Regions from separate parts of the Homo sapiens genome. Here regions 2 and 3 are each linked to region 1. The links come from fine-mapping of genetic effects on gene expression. A gene starts in region 1. Each other region holds a variant in brackets. All regions are shown on one strand. Distances are from middle to middle.

What was found.
Region 2: its variant is fine-mapped to the expression of MPHOSPH6 in cerebellar hemisphere (GTEx, PIP 0.93).
Region 3: its variant is fine-mapped to the expression of MPHOSPH6 in left ventricle (GTEx, PIP 0.94).

The regions. Positions count from the first base shown.
Region 1 is chr16:82,168,821-82,171,586 of GRCh38, reverse strand. It overlaps MPHOSPH6 (M-phase phosphoprotein 6), which reads left to right and starts at 1,363. Exons shown (of 5, transcript NM_005792.2): 1 at 1,363-1,462. The coding sequence starts at 1,412. RefSeq lists a silencer at 1,228-1,387, a cis regulatory region at 1,434 and an enhancer at 1,362-1,506.
Region 2 is chr16:82,022,210-82,024,975 of GRCh38, reverse strand. No RefSeq gene overlaps it. Among named protein-coding and RNA genes, the nearest start is that of HSD17B2, 12 kb to the left of the region's middle. The variant G/A (reference allele first, on the strand shown) is at 1,284.
Region 3 is chr16:82,199,041-82,201,806 of GRCh38, reverse strand. No RefSeq gene overlaps it. Among named protein-coding and RNA genes, the nearest start is that of MPHOSPH6, 30 kb to the right of the region's middle. The variant G/A (reference allele first, on the strand shown) is at 1,351.

The DNA.
Region 1 (2,766 bases):
AATCGGTGTTTGAATTTCAGCTCTAACATGGATTAGCTGTGTGAACACCAAGTGCGTTACCCACTCTGTGTCTCAGAATCCTTAACAACACGATGACAATACCTTCTTTCCGGTTCTTATGGGGATTAAGTGAACTAATTAGCCCTAAGGTGACCAGGTCAACAATCTGACGTAGAACTCATGGTATCAGCCGAGATGCTATTAGCTTGAGGGTGTTCCAAAGCGTCGGACCTGGGAATGGTTTTCGAAAACGTGTTTAGGTGGTACCCAGAGCATTAAACACCAGGGTAGGAACGCTACCCTATTTTCAGTGGTTTTTTAAATTCTTTTTTGTTTTGTTGTTTTGTTTTTGAGACAAAGCCTCACTCTGTAGCCCAGACTGGAGTCCAGTGGCGGGATGTCAGCTCACTGCAGCCTCGACGTCCCGGGTTCCAGTGATTCTCCAGCCTCAGCCTCCCAAGTAGTGGAGACCACAGATCCGTGCCACCACACCCAGCTATTTTTGTTGTATCTTTTGTACATTTTTTGTATATTTTGTATATATTTTTTGTATGTATATTTTGTATATTTTTTGTGTATATATATATATATATATATATATATTTTTTTTTTTTTTTTTTTTTTTTTTTTTTTTGTAGAGGTGGGGTCTCCCTATGTTGCCCCTCGCTATGGTCTTTTCAATTCTTTGGATCAAAACCAGGCTTTGTTCTCATTCATGTGTCTTTGGCACCCATCCCTGCCTCCATCCCTTGCCATTTCTTGAGATTCTTCTGTTTAGCAGAGATCACTCGGCCAGACACGCATCGGCAGCAGCCTGGGAATGAAGCCAGCCTGCCTGGGGCGGCCCCCGCCGCGCTCCCCCGGGACTCCGGGCTGCTGTGAGGAAAGCAGCAACTCGTGGGGTCCTGGTGAAGAGAAAACGACCTGGACCCTGCAAAGCGACCCAGAACAAAGGGAGCCCGCCACCCACGTTATGAAGACAAAACACGTGGGTAACACGGCCCAGGCGGGTGGCAGGCGTGGCGGAAACCTCTCTGAGGCTGGCGAGGACTACTGAGTGTGGAGGGGGTCCCTGAGGAAGGGAGTCCCCGAGGGAGGATGGGCCTCCGAGGGGGCCAGGCCGACGTCCCGGGAAGGCGACCCGCGGCTCGGGGAAGCCAAGTTCTGGGTCGTCCTCTGACTTCGGCTTTTTTGCGGTCTGCCGCGCTCATCCCCGCGCCCGCCACCCCGCGAGCTTACCCGAGCCTCTCAGTCAGCAGAGCGCCCGCTGAGTGGCCGCGCCCGCGCGCAAGACACAGGGGAGGGGCGGGGCGGGGCGGCGCGCACTACGCGAGGGACGCAGCTGCGCACGCGGCTCCGCGCATGTGCGGTGAGGCTCGCGGCCGGAGTGCGGCGCTGGGCGGAAGCTACCATGGCGGCCGAGCGAAAGACAAGGTTGTCCAAGAATCTACTGCGCATGAAGGTGCGGGGACGCTGAGAGCGCCACTCCGGGCGGTAGGGGCACCCGGTCCTTCCAACCTGGCCGGGGCCGAGGCGGCGGGCGGACAAGGGACACCAGAGAGGCCTCAGAGGGCTTCCAGCTCTCGTGCTCATTCATTCACTTAGCGCCTGCTCTGCACTGTTTACTGGGAACCAGCTTACGAATTAGGCCGACTCTCTCAGGAGGCCCGCGGGCGGATGGGAGCTTGAGTACACAGAAGCAGTCAGGGTACAGCTTACCCAGTGCAGTGAGGGTAGAAGCGCTGGGGACCTTGGGGACTCACCGAGCTTCTCGAGAAGTTGTTGCTTACTTATATATGCAATAAATATGATATATGGGAAGTGTAACTCCTTAGCTGGGTAATTTAGGTAAATTCACTTCTTTCTCTGAATATCTCTTTTCCTCATCTTTAAAAAGAAGAGCATTAGGCTACATGAGTTCAAGCTCCTTTTTAATTTTGATAATACTTCTTTTAGTAGAGTTCTTCAGAGAAACAGAATCAACAAGATGTATATGTGTATATATGTGTATGGAGAGAGGGGGTATTTTTAAAACTGGATCACACGACTGTGGAGATGCAAGTCTAAAATCTGCAGGGTGGGCCAGTAGGCTGGAGACCCAGAGAAGTACTCAGTCCAAGTCCAAAGACAGTCTGCTGGCAGAACTCCCTCTTCTTCCAGGGAGAAGAGGGTGAGTCTCGCAGGGTAGTCTCTAGGTTACTGGGAGGGTGGAAGGCACAGCGTCCTAAACTAGGAGAAACTGAGTTCAGAAGTCTGAGAGGCAAGAAAGAAAAAGAAAACCATGGAAATTTCCAAGAATTAGAGACAATTCAGTATGTCTGGAAGGCAAGTACTAAGAAATGGGGTTGCAGAGTAGGCAATGGTCACAACGTGCAGGGAATTTGAGGCCAGATTAAAGATATTTTCCTTTATTTTGTGAGCAATGGAAAGCTATTGAAACGGGGAACAGTATCAAGAAAATGGCAAATATTTATAGTACTAGACAATGATTGAAGTGGTTTGCGTATATTAACCTATGCAATTCACATAATGACACTTTGAGGTGACTACAGGCAGTAACTCTCTTCTTACAGCTAAGGCAACTGAAACAGAAATAAGTAATTTACCCAAAGTTACACAGCTAATAAGTAGTGTAGACAGGACGGGAATTCAGGCAGTCTGGCTCCAGAACCCTGGCTCTTTATTACTACTCTGTACTCTGTGATGCCTGTCACTAAGCACTACTTCTAGAGAGTAGCAAACTGTTACATGTCATGTTTAAAGAGG
Region 2 (2,766 bases), 150 kb after region 1:
TAACACCTGGTGATCTGTCACTGTCTCCCATCACCCCCATATGGGACTGTCTAGTTGCAGGAAAACAAGCTCAGGGCTCCCACTGACTCTACATTATGGTGAGTTGTATAATTATTTCATTATAGATTACAATGTAATAATAATAGAAATAAAGTGCACAATAAATGTAATGTACTTGAATCATCCCAAAACCATTCCCCCACCCCCACAAAGATCTGTGGAAAAATTGTCTTCCATGAAACCAGTCGCTGGCACCAAAAAAGGTTGTGGACTGCTGATTCAAGCCACCAAGGTCATGGTCATCTGTTATGGCAGCCCTAGGAAACTACCGCAATCACCAAAGGACATACAACAGTGATGTAACTCTACTTACTAAAGGATCCTTTGTCTCCTCTCACCACCACCAGGGAGTTTCCTAACCTCCTAGATACTTCCTTGAGCTTCTCTTAATTCTCTCACTGTCTCTTTAACCTCCTCCTCTTCCTCCCACCCATATTGTTCCACAGACTCAACTTCTCCCTGTTTCCTACAGGGTTGTCATCTCACTTGTCATCTCACAGCCTACTCTAACTCCTACTCCCAAAGTTACAAGTGCCAAATTTACTTTATTCACAGCCTTCTCTATCTCAGTGAGGACAACTTCATCCTTTCAGCAGCACAGCATGCAAGCACTGGACTCCCCTTGACTCTGCTGTTGGAATCAACCCACATCCAATCCACCAAGAAATCTTGCTAGCTCTACCTTCAGAATTTATCCACTACCTGACTACTTCTGACTCCCTCCACTGCTGCTAGCCTAGTCCAAGGCATCATCACCCCCTGCCAGCATTGCAACTGCCTCCAGTAGATCCCTCTGGTTCCACCCCTGTCTCCCAACAGTCCATTTTCAACCCAGCACCAGAAAAAAATTCTTTTCAAAACTTTAGTCCAATCTTATCACTCATCTACTGAAAACCTGGCAAAGCCTCCCGTCTCACCTAGAGAAAAGCCAAAATCCTTAAATGGCTACAAGGATGGTCTGGCCCCTGCAGTTCTTAGACCACATCTGACTTCTACCCCCTCTTTCACTCTATTCTAGTCCCAAGGACCTACTTACTTCTTATCAAACACATGGGACACCCTCCTTGATCCAGCAGTTTCCTCTGCCTAGAATGTTCTTGTCTAGTTGCCTAATTCCCTCGACTCCTGTGATTCCTTTCTTGTATGTCTCCGGCTCAATGCAACTGGCTCCCTCATCATGCTCTGAATTTTCCCATGGAAATGATCTAAATAATAAAACCATA[G/A]CAACAATAACAAACTTCATGCTGTATCTGTCTGCTGACAATGGACTGAATGTTTGTATCATCTCAACCCCCAACTTTATATGTTGAAATCCTAACCCCCAATGTGATGGTATTTGGACGTAGAGCCTTTAGGAGGTAATTAGGCTATGGCGGTAGAGCCCTCATGAACGGGATTAATGCCCTTACAACCTGGAGAGCTCTCTTGCCCTCTTTTGGCCCCGGGAGGATAAAGGAAGCCAGCAGCCTGCAGAGCCAGCAGTTCTGCAACCTCACCAGAACCCAATCATGCCGACACCCTGATCGCAGACTTCCCGCCTCAAGAACTGTGAAAAAAAAAATTATGCTGTTGATAAGCCACCTTATGTTGTTGATAAGCCTCCTGTTCCTGTTAAGCCACCTCTGGTACTTTGGAATAGCAGCCCAAACTGAACAAGACACTGTCTATCTATCAAAAACAAAATAAAACAAAATGGTGGTCATGAGTATACTGTTAACATGTTTACTTGAACTGAAATATGAAGTCAATTATTTTTTCTAACAGCTGATCATTAAATATAACGTGACCATAAAACTCAAAAATAATGTAAATACTTTGATTTAGCTGTTTGACTTGACAATGTGAAATGGCTTTGCCAATTATATGATGAATATATTCCAGAACTTGAATGAGTTGTCTTCAGTTACAAAGTTGTCCTAAAATATATTTAAGATACATAAGATAAAAGCATTTTATCAAAAATATTGCATTCACAATATGGTATTATATTGAAATTAACATTAACGCTGTTGTGATTTACCCAACTCTGAGTATACTTAGGGAAACATAATGTCTCGGAGAAAAAAAATAACAAGTATAATTAGTATTCATTTGATATGGGTTTAAACCCACTTTGGTCTAATTTCTGGACACTGAAGATGGAATAATAAATTATTTTGCAAGTAATTGTGTTTACAATTCTCAGCTTCCAGCAAAACTGAAGAAGAACCTAACCTAGTTGCCAGTTGACCATAAAATTTAATTAGGGGCATATAATTCAAAAGGAGGTTTAAAAATTGAGTGTCCCATCTATTCCTAACTCGCTGAGAATTTTATCACAACAGGATGTTGAATTTTGTCAAATGTTTATTCTTCATCTATGGATATGATCATATGGTTAAGCTTATTTAATATGTCAATATTGAGAAATATATTGATGGATTTTTTTAATTGAGTAAAGTTGCTATTCAAATCTAGTTCCATCCCCATCTACTCACTTCTGTGAATGAAAATTCTCAGTGATACGTGTATAAGAATTTTAAAAATAGCAATATAATTCATGCTGAAACCTGTATTTTTCTATTAGTAAGTAGCATTCAAATTAAGATACCTGAACAAATTGGAAAAAACCCACATCCATCGAATTAATACTTTATTTTTATATTTAATAATTTAAAAATTTTATAATAGTATTTTATTTGTTATCTATGACTAATAATTAAAATG
Region 3 (2,766 bases), 30 kb before region 1:
GATAATGGTCATGTCCTGGCTTAAAATACAAGGTAAAGGTATGGCTTTATTTCGGTAGGATCTAGGGGAAAACTTGCATAGAAAAACCTCTCCCACAAAGTGCCCTTGTAATTTCTCAAATACCCCTTGCCCACCTGCTTTGTCCAAGCTCCAACAATACCTTGTTTGTATCCCTATTAAAAGTCTGTATTGTCTTGTGGCTTTTTTGTTTAGACATCTGACTCACTTGTGAACTCCAAGAGCCAGGCCATGCATCCATGTCTGAAGCTTTAGCACTAGTTTCTTATCTAGAGTGAGTGCTCAATAAATCTTCGTTGGAAAAATGAATAAAACAATGAGTGAATGGATGAACAGGAAAGAATGAACCAGCTGACCTCCTCACACATCAACAGCCTTCTCCTCACTTCCTCATGCTGTTCCCACCTTCCTCGAATGATGACACTGTGCTGACTTTGAAGAAAGGCAATCATGAAGAATGACGGAGTCTGGAAAACCAGGAATGGGGGTGGGGTTTCCAGGTGTGGGTGATGGGTAGAGGAGTGAGAGGACAGGAAGCAAAAGCAGAGGTGTGGAGTTTCCTTCAGAGACCACGGAAATCCCACTGGGAGAACAGAAGAGCTGGCATGGAAAATAGAAGTGGGGCAGGCAACAGGAGAGAACTGTGACAGCCTGAGTGGAGTAGGGCAGGACCCTGGAGCCCGTAGATGCACTTGGGTCAGGGTGATGGGGGTGACGGTACACAACTGAGGATAGAAGAATTCAATTCATCTTTTGTTTCCTCTCCTGTTGGTTTTTTACACATAGGATGAAAAAACCTACTTTGGGAAAAAAATAAGCAAGTGGACTCAAAGGTTTACAACAGCACTATTCACAACAGCCAAAAGGCAGAAACAGTACAAATGTCCATCAATGAATGAATGGATAAACAAAATATGGTCTATCTATACAATGGAATATTGTTCAGCCATAAAAAAGGATAAAATACCGATACATGCTATAACATAGATGAACCACAAAAACCTCATGCTGCGTGAAAGAAGCAAGTCACTAAGGGTTACATATTGCATAATTCCATTTAAATGAAAGCTCCAGAATATGTAAGTTCATGGACATAGAAAGCAGGCTAATGAGTTTCCAGGGGTTTGAGTGACAGGGAGTAGGAGTATGATGGAGCATAATGGGTACGAGCTTTCCTTTCTGGGTGACGAAATGTCTCGGAACTAGATAGAGATGGTGGTTATACAATATATGAATGCACTTAATGCCACTGAATTGTACACTTTAAAGTGGTTAATGGTTAATTTTATGTTATGTGAATTTTACTTCAATTAAGAAAAATAAGCTGGGCCA[G/A]GTGCAGTGGTTCACGCCTGCAGTCCCAGCACTTTCGGAGGCCAAGGTGATAGAATCACTTGATGCCAGGAGTTTGAGAACAGCCTGGCCAACATGGTGAAACCTCGTCTCTCCAAAAATATACAAAAATGAGCCAGGTGTGGTGGAGCACGCCTGTAATCCCAACTACTCCAGAGGCTGGGGCAGAAGAATCGCTTGAACCTGGAAGGCAGAAGTTGCAGTGAGCGGAGATTATGCCACTGTACTCCAGCCTGGACGACGGAGTGAGATTCTGTCTCAAAAAAAGAAAAAAAAAAAAGAAGAAGCTGGTAGAAAATACCTCCCCTTTGAATGAACCCATTGTTGGAGGCTTCCTCCATTTTATGGAGAGAGAAGCTGCAGTTAAAGCAGAACCAGGGCCTCTCCCAACTTACAGTCAAAATGTCACTGACAGTCCCTGCCTGGCTCTGTCGTAGGAAAGTTATCCCTTGTGACTCCTAGATCTTCCTTAGCTTTCTCCCTCCCTCCCACAGAATGTAAACTCTGGGAGGTCAGAAATTGGGTCTATCCTGCTCAGCTGCCATTTCCCAGCACCTAGCATGGTGCCTGATGTGGTGTATGACTACTGTGCCCTCTGATCCATTCTCCACACTGTAATAGGTGATCTCTTCAAAGAGAGAATTTTCTTGGGTCCCCTTCCTTCCATTTTCAACCCTAATGGCTTCACTGGCTCTAGAATGAAGACCAACGTTTTGCCCTGAGCCATAAGCTAAGCGTAATCTGGCTCATGCCCAGCTCACCTTGAATCTGCCCACCTCTATGACCCAGGCCCGTGACCTACTTTCAGCGAAGGTCACCACACTTCCTCCAGTGATGCAGCCTTTCCATGTGCTACCCCTCTGTCTCCCTTCACTTCAGCCTAATTAACTCTTACTCATCCTTCATTTCTGTGCCAAAGACTGTCCCCTCTGCCCACCAGCATCCATTCTTATCTTCCTTTTAAATAGAACTCCCACGCACCTAGCTATCACCACTAACAACATCTTCTGGCCTACTTTGTAGCTAGGTGTGGTCATGTGACTAAATTCTGGCCAAGAAACAATGATGTGTACAGCTGCCAAGTCACCTCTTGAAAGCCATTTCTTTCTCCCCTCCTTCTGGCTCAAAATGATATCCACAGAGGTAGGATTGGAAGCCAGATGTTGAAGATGGCAGAGCTGCCTACCAACCCTGAACTGCTCACCTCTGTCATATAAAAGAGAAAGAAATTTACATCTTATTGAAGCCATGACAATGTAGCATCTTTGTGACAGAGCTTAGCTTGTATCATAACTAATCTATACCTTACCTCAACCGAATCATATCAAAGCCTTTCCCTGTCCAGTGTAATCAGTCTGATCAGTCTGACTCTTCCTATTATGTGTTCTCAAGCCACCA